Linked DNA regions of Homo sapiens. Changing the gene in region 2 together with the main gene of any one other region gives a genetic interaction. Each region holds a gene or a part of one and is shown on either strand. Other genes may lie near its edges.

Evidence for each region.
Region 1: changes in FLT3 (region 2) and GAGE12E together harm fitness less than expected from each alone (positive genetic interaction), as found in Homo sapiens cells (one study listed by BioGRID).

Annotation. Positions count from the first base shown.
Region 1 is NC_000023.11:49,549,192-49,552,940, reverse strand, and holds the start of GAGE12E (G antigen 12B/C/D/E), read right to left. Parts: upstream 1,653-3,749; 5' UTR 1,545-1,652; intron 506-1,544; 5' UTR 498-505; coding exon 414-497; intron 1-413.
Region 2 is NC_000013.11:28,051,977-28,055,725, forward strand, and holds part of FLT3 (receptor-type tyrosine-protein kinase FLT3 precursor), read right to left. Parts: intron 948-3,749; exon of another isoform or gene 856-947; intron 699-855; coding exon 569-698; intron 1-568. UniProt on the Homo sapiens protein: Tyrosine-protein kinase that acts as a cell-surface receptor for the cytokine FLT3LG and regulates differentiation, proliferation and survival of hematopoietic progenitor cells and of dendritic cells.

The DNA of each region.
Region 1 (3,749 bases), on a different chromosome or scaffold from region 2:
AAAATTTTACATATATACACAGAATACATAGCTATTTCTGGTCCTAACTAAGCCTAAAGACATTTCTCCAACTCTATGCTCTATGCCCAATAAGGTTACTCCACCCACAGGGAGGTTACTGTGAGAAAAGTGACGCACGAGGACTTTGGGGGCTATTATACTCTGTGTTGGAATACATGTGTACAATCTGTCATTAACAAACAAAGCCGGAGAAAGAAGTCATGGGCAAAAGCTGAAGAACACGAGAGGAAAAAAAAAATCCTCCAGAATCAATGTTTCCTTCATGAGATGCCATCCTCATTTTTTATGAGCAGGAAAGACCTTTATCAGCATTTCCACACTAATGCAACGACGCTATCACAAAAATTAATTTCTACTAATAGAAAACATCGAATTAACGTTTAAGCACTCACCCGCATAGGCCCAATCATTTCAGGAGGCTGTACATAGCGCCTTGGTCTAGGCCAATAATAGGTCGATCTTCCTCGCCAACTCATATTTCACACTGAAAACAGACAACCGTGATTGGGAACGTGCGCTCCAGAGGGCTGCTATATTCGATCACTTCCATGGATAAATGTTAACTTGCCGTTTTACTTTTGAAAATACTCTCAAAATAAGTCCCAGAGTTAAGCATACGTGTGTACGCTGTCTGAGTGCCTACAAAGCCACTTCTGCTGGCCAGGCTGGCAGAGCAATCATCTTAAGGCGTGTGGCAAAAGGCAGAGGACATTTTTTTCTAAATTTCTTTTGGACACGCGGTCTCGCTGTGTTGCTCAGGCTGGAGTGCAGCGGCGTGATCACAGCTCACTGCAGCCTCGACCTCCCGCTCAAGGGATCCTCCCACCTCAGTGTCCCCAGTAACTGGGAATACGTAGGCGAGCGCCACTGCGCCCCGCAGACAGAGGTCATTTCTGATGAGGTTTAGTTTCACAAGTGCACTCCCCACGAAAACCCTAGTGAATCACAATTCTCGTGATTGCTGCTTTGGGCACACTCCCACTTCCTAGAGCCATTCACCCCCCCTCACAACAAGTTTGGTTGGACCGCACTGCCTCGCCCACTCCTTCCCACTGTTTTCGGACCTTCCATGGCGGAGGTGAGACCTTGCAGTGCTTCTCACTCGGGCGCTCCGCACTCCACACCGCTGAGGGGGCGCTCGCCAGGCCGCAGCCTTCCCAGGTGCCAGGCCCCTTCTTCACCGCCCGCCTCGCCCCCGCCGGGGGCCCCATTCAGGGAATCTGCCCTGTGTCGTCGGGGATCCCGGCACCTCGGGACTTCCATCCCCCCAACAGCACTCACCCCGTCTTCACCTGAGCCCCTGACCGCCTCCCCTCCACGGCCCACCTTCCTCCCCGTCCAGGCCCCTTCACGACCACGAAGCCGCCGGTGGCCTCGCAGCCTGTGAAGGGAAGGAGGACGACCTCGTGGCCCTTCTCCCTCGGAGGCCACAGACCAGGAAGCGGGACCCGCTTGACCCACCCGAGGCCCTCTCCACCCTCACTCACACTTCAGCCCCCGGGATGACTGGCCTGCACACCTACCAGATGAATCTCAGTAGAGGAAAAAGAGTCCGGACGGCAGGAACCACACAGCACTGCCTCACAGCTCCCTGGCGTTCTTCACGTGGGCGAAGGGGCCGGGCAGAAGACGCCCAGTGAACATGCGCACTGAGGCGGGAGCCCAGGGAGCATGCGCGGCTGTGGGCTGGGGAGGGCTGCCGTTCCCAGCGCCACGCCCCAAACCCTCCATGCCCATCCTCATTGAGGATAAGGGAATCCCACCTCCCTCTGCTGTTTCCTATGCCTCTGGGACTCAAGTAGTGCTCCCCTCAAAACTCACCCCATCTTCAACTGAACCCCACCCCCAACCCAGGGCCCTCTCTTGCCCCGGACCCACCATGGGGACAAGGACCACTGTGACTGGCTGGGAAGACAGGTAAACCACCTGCGAAAACAGAAATAGCAACCTATCCCAAAAGGAAATTGTTCAATGTGAACAAGTCAGAGAAAGAGACTGAAAGAAAAATGAATAGAATCGCTAGGACCCGTAAGAAAATGCTAAAACGATATCTATCATTTGTAGCATCAGAATCGCAGAGGGTGAAGTGACAGTATTAGGGAAACAGGACAGCCAGAGTGACACCACGTGAAAATATACTCCGTCTTGAAAGCAGCAAGATACATAGTCCTACCAGTCACAACCCATGGTCCTAAGATGTTTGGAGTTGAGAAAACAGATGAAAGGTACCTCCAAGGACATGCTCCCACAGCAGCGGAAAGTGCACGGTTCCCAACACCCATTAACAATATATGCTTTCAACAGAATTATGCTTTCATGGACTTACACACTGGTAAGTCAAGGACAGTTTTCTTTAAATCAATAGAATGATAAAAGTCATCATGCTCTTAGCCCACCCGCACAAAGGCACAGATTAACTTTAGTCTTTATATAGATAAGACCCCTATATAAGAAAAACCAGACCAGGCCAAGGCTCACGCCTGTAATCCTAGTATTTTGGGAGGCTGAGCTGGCCAGATCACCTGAGCTCAGGACTTCGAGACCAGCCTAAGCAACATCAGAAAATCTCATCACTACAAAAAACAAACAAAAAACCATCGAAAAATTAGCTGGGCATGGTGGCATGTACCTATACTCACAGCTCCTCAGGAGGCTGAGGTGGGAGGCGCACTTGAGCCCAGGAGGTCAAGGCTGCAGCGAGCTCTGATAACACCACCGCACTCCAGCCTCGGTGACAGAGTGAGACGCTGTCTCAAGTTTTAATAATCGAACCTAAAAACGTACAAATTTATCAATCGAATTCACTATATTAACACATGAATGGGAAAAAACGCTGTGGTAATCGAAATAGATGCACTGTTTGATGAAAATCAACATATATTCAAATGAATACTCTCAGCAAATTTGGAACAGAATGCAATGACTCACTCTGATAAAGTCCGTCTACAAAAAAAGGAGAGTGAATAGGATGGCGAAATGTTGAAATTTTTCGGTTTCTCATCAGGGAGAAGACAAGGATGTCCACTGTCACCATTGTAACGGGTGGGTCTGCGCAATGCCATAAAATCAGAAAAGGAAATAAAACTCTTTACAATGCCAACGACGGGCCCGCCACGGTGGCCCACGCCAGTAATCCCAGCACTGTGGGAGGTGAGGTGGGTGCATCACTTGCACTCAAAAGTTCAACAACAGCCCGGGAAACATGGCAAAACCCCGTCTCTACAAAAAAATACAAAAGGGAAAAGAAAAAAATATGGCGGAAACAAAACTGCTCTTATTCCAGGATGATATGTTTCTGTATATTGAAGACTGAAAACGACCTAGAAGTAAACTTTAGAATTCACAAGCATATTTCACAAGGCCGCTGGATAGAAAACCAATATGTAAGAATTATGTCTCCACCGGGCACGGAGGCTCATGCCTGTAATCCCAGCACTTTGGGAGGCCAAGGCAGGTGAATCACGAGGTCAGGAGTTCAAGAGCACCCCGGCCAAGATGGCGAAAGCCCATCTCTAGTAAAAACACAAAACTTAGCCAGGCGTGCTGGTGGGTGCCTATAATCCCAGCTACTCGGGAGGCTGAGGCAGACAATTGCTTGAATCCGGGAGGCGGGGTTGCAGTGAGCAGAGATCGCGCCACTGCACTCCAGCCTGGGCGACAGAGCAAGACTCCGTCTCAAAAGAGGACAAAGAAAAAAAGAAAAAAAAAGAACGATGTCTCTACATACC
Region 2 (3,749 bases):
AGGGCCCTGCAGTTGATTTGAGGGGTTCCAAAAAGCCCCTTACCAAAAAAATCCTTGTCCTCCCTGTGAAGCCCACATTGGCCATTCTGTATTACTTATTTATTTTATTTTTTTAATTTTATTTATTTATTTTTTGAGACGGAGTTTCGCTCTTGTTGCCCAGGCTGGAGTGCAATGGCGTGATCTTGGCTCACCACAACCTTTGCCTCCCAGGTTCAAGAGATTCTCCTGCCTCAGCCTCCAGAGTAGCTGGTATTTTAGGTGCCTGCCACCACACCCAGTTAATTTTTTGTATTTTTAGTAGAGATGGGGTTTCACCATGTTGGCCAGGCTGGTCTCAAACTCCTGACCTCAAGTGATCTGTCCACCTTGGCCTCCCGAAATGCTGGGATTACAGGCGTGAGCCACTTCACCCGGCCCTATACTGGCCATTTTTTAACTTTAAGAAGCCAAAGTTTCCTGTTTAAATGAGCATAAATTAAATTTTACATACAGCTTGATGTCAACTACATTAGAAAAAGGCCAAAAGGAAATTATGAGAATAGCAGCTACCATGGATGTGTCATACCTTTCCCCCTGTGAATCGCAAAGCACCCATTCCACGATCGGCTCTGGAACGCTCTCAGATATGCAGACCAGGGCGTCCTGGTTTTCCATTTTTCTAAAGTAAGGTCTTCTTAATGTGTAAAGCAGGGTATCTAAAGCATCATAAGTTATTAACATTTTACTATTTTAAAAATAATTCTCTTAGCAGCCCCTCAGAAAAGGATTCTATGTCATTATGAAAAGTTCTCAACCATTACGTATACATATTTTTTTCTTTTTTCATAATAAAGGCATCAAAAGCAAACCAACCATTATATTAAATTTAGCTGTGGCTGCAGTGTCAACTTGAACATTTCTCCTCTTGGCCAATTTCTTTGGGTATTTCACAAATCCACAGCTAACTAAAGTAGTCGAGTGAAGCCATGTGAAAATACAAATATTGATAGGCACAGGAAAAAGGAAATTAGCAATAACATATGGCTTAAACCCTTGTTTAACACATAGTTTAGACCTCAACTTTCTTCCTATAATTTGATCTGCAACTAGGCAGAAATATACTAAGATTTAGAAAGACAGAAGAAACATGGTAGGGTGGAGTTGGAATTGCAACAGAACTTAAGAGGTTTAGTTGAGCCTCCCACTCACCCTGGATCACACACACACACACACACACACCATCCTTCACTCCCAGCTATTTCTAACATAAACTTTCTACTTCTACTTTGACTCTTCTAGAGACTGGAGTTCATGACCTCCCAGGGCAGGTCATTCTAATTTCTGACAAACTTTTTTTTTTTTAAAGAAAGTTTCCCTATACTGAATTCCAGCCTCTCTCCTTACAATAAATTTTGTTTGAAAATACTATGTACTGTTTGATATATATATATATATATGAAAGAATATATGGAGTGTAAATTTCAAAGCATAACAACAACAAATACCCACGGAGCCACTATCCACCTAATAACTAGAATATTAATAAATACCTTTTGATCTACTTTTATGCTTCTCCCCACCTCTCAACTGCACGTATCCTTTATCCTGAATTTTGTTGATTATTCGAGGACTCTTCAAAGTAGTTATACCAAATAAATATGTGGCACTAAACAATATATTGATTTTTTCATTCTTGAGCTTCAAAATAGTGTTATCAATCAATATGTAACTTCTACAACTTCATTTTTTCATCCAACCTTATGTTTTTAAAATTCATCCATGGTTTTACATGTAGCTATACTTTATTCATTTTTTTTTTTACTGCTACATAATATTCTATTGGTAAATATATCATTATTTTTTCATTTTCTTGCAGTAGACATTTGGGTTGTTTCCTTCCGTGTGTGTGTGTGAGACAGGGTCTCTGTCACCCAGGCTGGAGTGCAGTGGTGCAATCTCAGCTCACTACAGCCTCAACCTCCCAGGCTCAAGTGATCTTCCTGCCTTGGCCTCCCAAAGTGCTTGGATTACAGGTATGAGCCACCACACCCGGCCACAGTTTTTTGTATGATCAACCATGTGCTCTGAACATTCTACACATTTGTACTGAGGCATGTGTATAACAGTTTCCTTAATAACATTCTTAAGAGTGGAACTGCTGGTCTACATGGTATGAGCACATTCAGCCTTACACATAATGATCATTTGTTTTCCAAAGTGGTTATACTAATTTATGTTACACAGCAGGATATGAGAGCACCTATTGCTTTATAGACTTACCAAGACTTCTTAATTTTCAGCAATCCAGCAAGTATAAAATGGTATTTCATTGTGGTCTTAATTTAATTTCTCCATTATTAATTTAACATGTGTTAAAATAATTAATTGGGAGTCCATTAGGCTGAGACAACTCTAACAGCTTGAGTTCCTAGGTAAACAAATCACAACACAACTCAAAAAAAAAAAAAGGAAAAGAATAAAGGCCGGGCAAGGTGGCTCACGCCTGTAATCCCAGCACTTAGGGAGGGTGAGGCGGGAGGATCGCTTGAGCCCAGGAGTTCGAGACCAGCCTAGGTAACATGCCAAAACCCCGTCTCTACAAAAACAACAACAACAAAAAGCAAAAAACAAACCCAATTCAATATGAGCAGCAAAATGCAACTTAGCTTAATCAATGAGGAACTGCAAACTGACCAATCCAGGGACTGTCCTTCTTTAAACAATCAAATTTTTTCTTTGTCTTGCTTCCGGGAACACATTATAGAAAGAAGTCTTACCCTTGAATCTCCTCACTGGAGCCCACCTGCTTGCCATCTGGTACTGCCTGATTCATGAATTGCTTTCTGCTCAAATATACTCTTTACAACTTTAAAGTGCCTAAGTTTATCTTTTAACATGTTTCTTGACCATTTAGGTTTCATGTTCCAAAAATGAAATGCCTACTCATGTCCTTTGTTCATTGCTCTACTAGGTTTTCATTTTGTTCGTTTTTCTTATTGACTTATTGACTTATATAGATTGTTTATCTTATTGACTTTACATATTATGACTATTAATCCTTTGTTGATTGTGAACTGCAAGTATTTTTTCCCATCTTGAGGTGATTTTTACTTTTTCTCCCTGTAATTTCTAACAATTGGTTCTTATCATATCCTCTAGAGCAACTTTTTTAAAGTCTAGCTTTGATTCCATATGAAAATCTTTCAAATATTTAAAATCAGAAACCGAGATCAAGGGAGATAATTACCATACAAGGTACTTTAACTAGTTAGCTCAGGTTTCCTGACTCAAATCCCAAAAGAATTTCCTCTGCATTACACTGCAATCAATCTTATCGTCTCCTCAAAACATTTCCTTCTATATACTACACATTCCCAATTCCTTCAACTGCTCCTAATTTAAAGAATTCCAAGTTTTCCACTATCCTGGTTGCTCATTTTGTCAGTATTCATCTTTAAAAAAGTAGAACTGAAATGAATAAGCTTCTATTAATTTCCTTAATTTAGACGTTATATTTTCATGAACACTGCCAAGGTTCAAATTTACTTTTTTGGCAACCATGCCACGCTGGTGGTTAATACTGAGCTTGTGGTTGACTAAACCCTTTCCTCTTTTTCACACTGACTGTTGCCACATCTCTCCCACCTATTTTTTGGATCCCACCACCTTGCAGAATGCTAAAAATAAGTTATAATTTACCTGAATAACTGTTGTTACATTTTTACATTGTAAATCTTAAGTGAAAGGAATATACCCTAAGTATAACA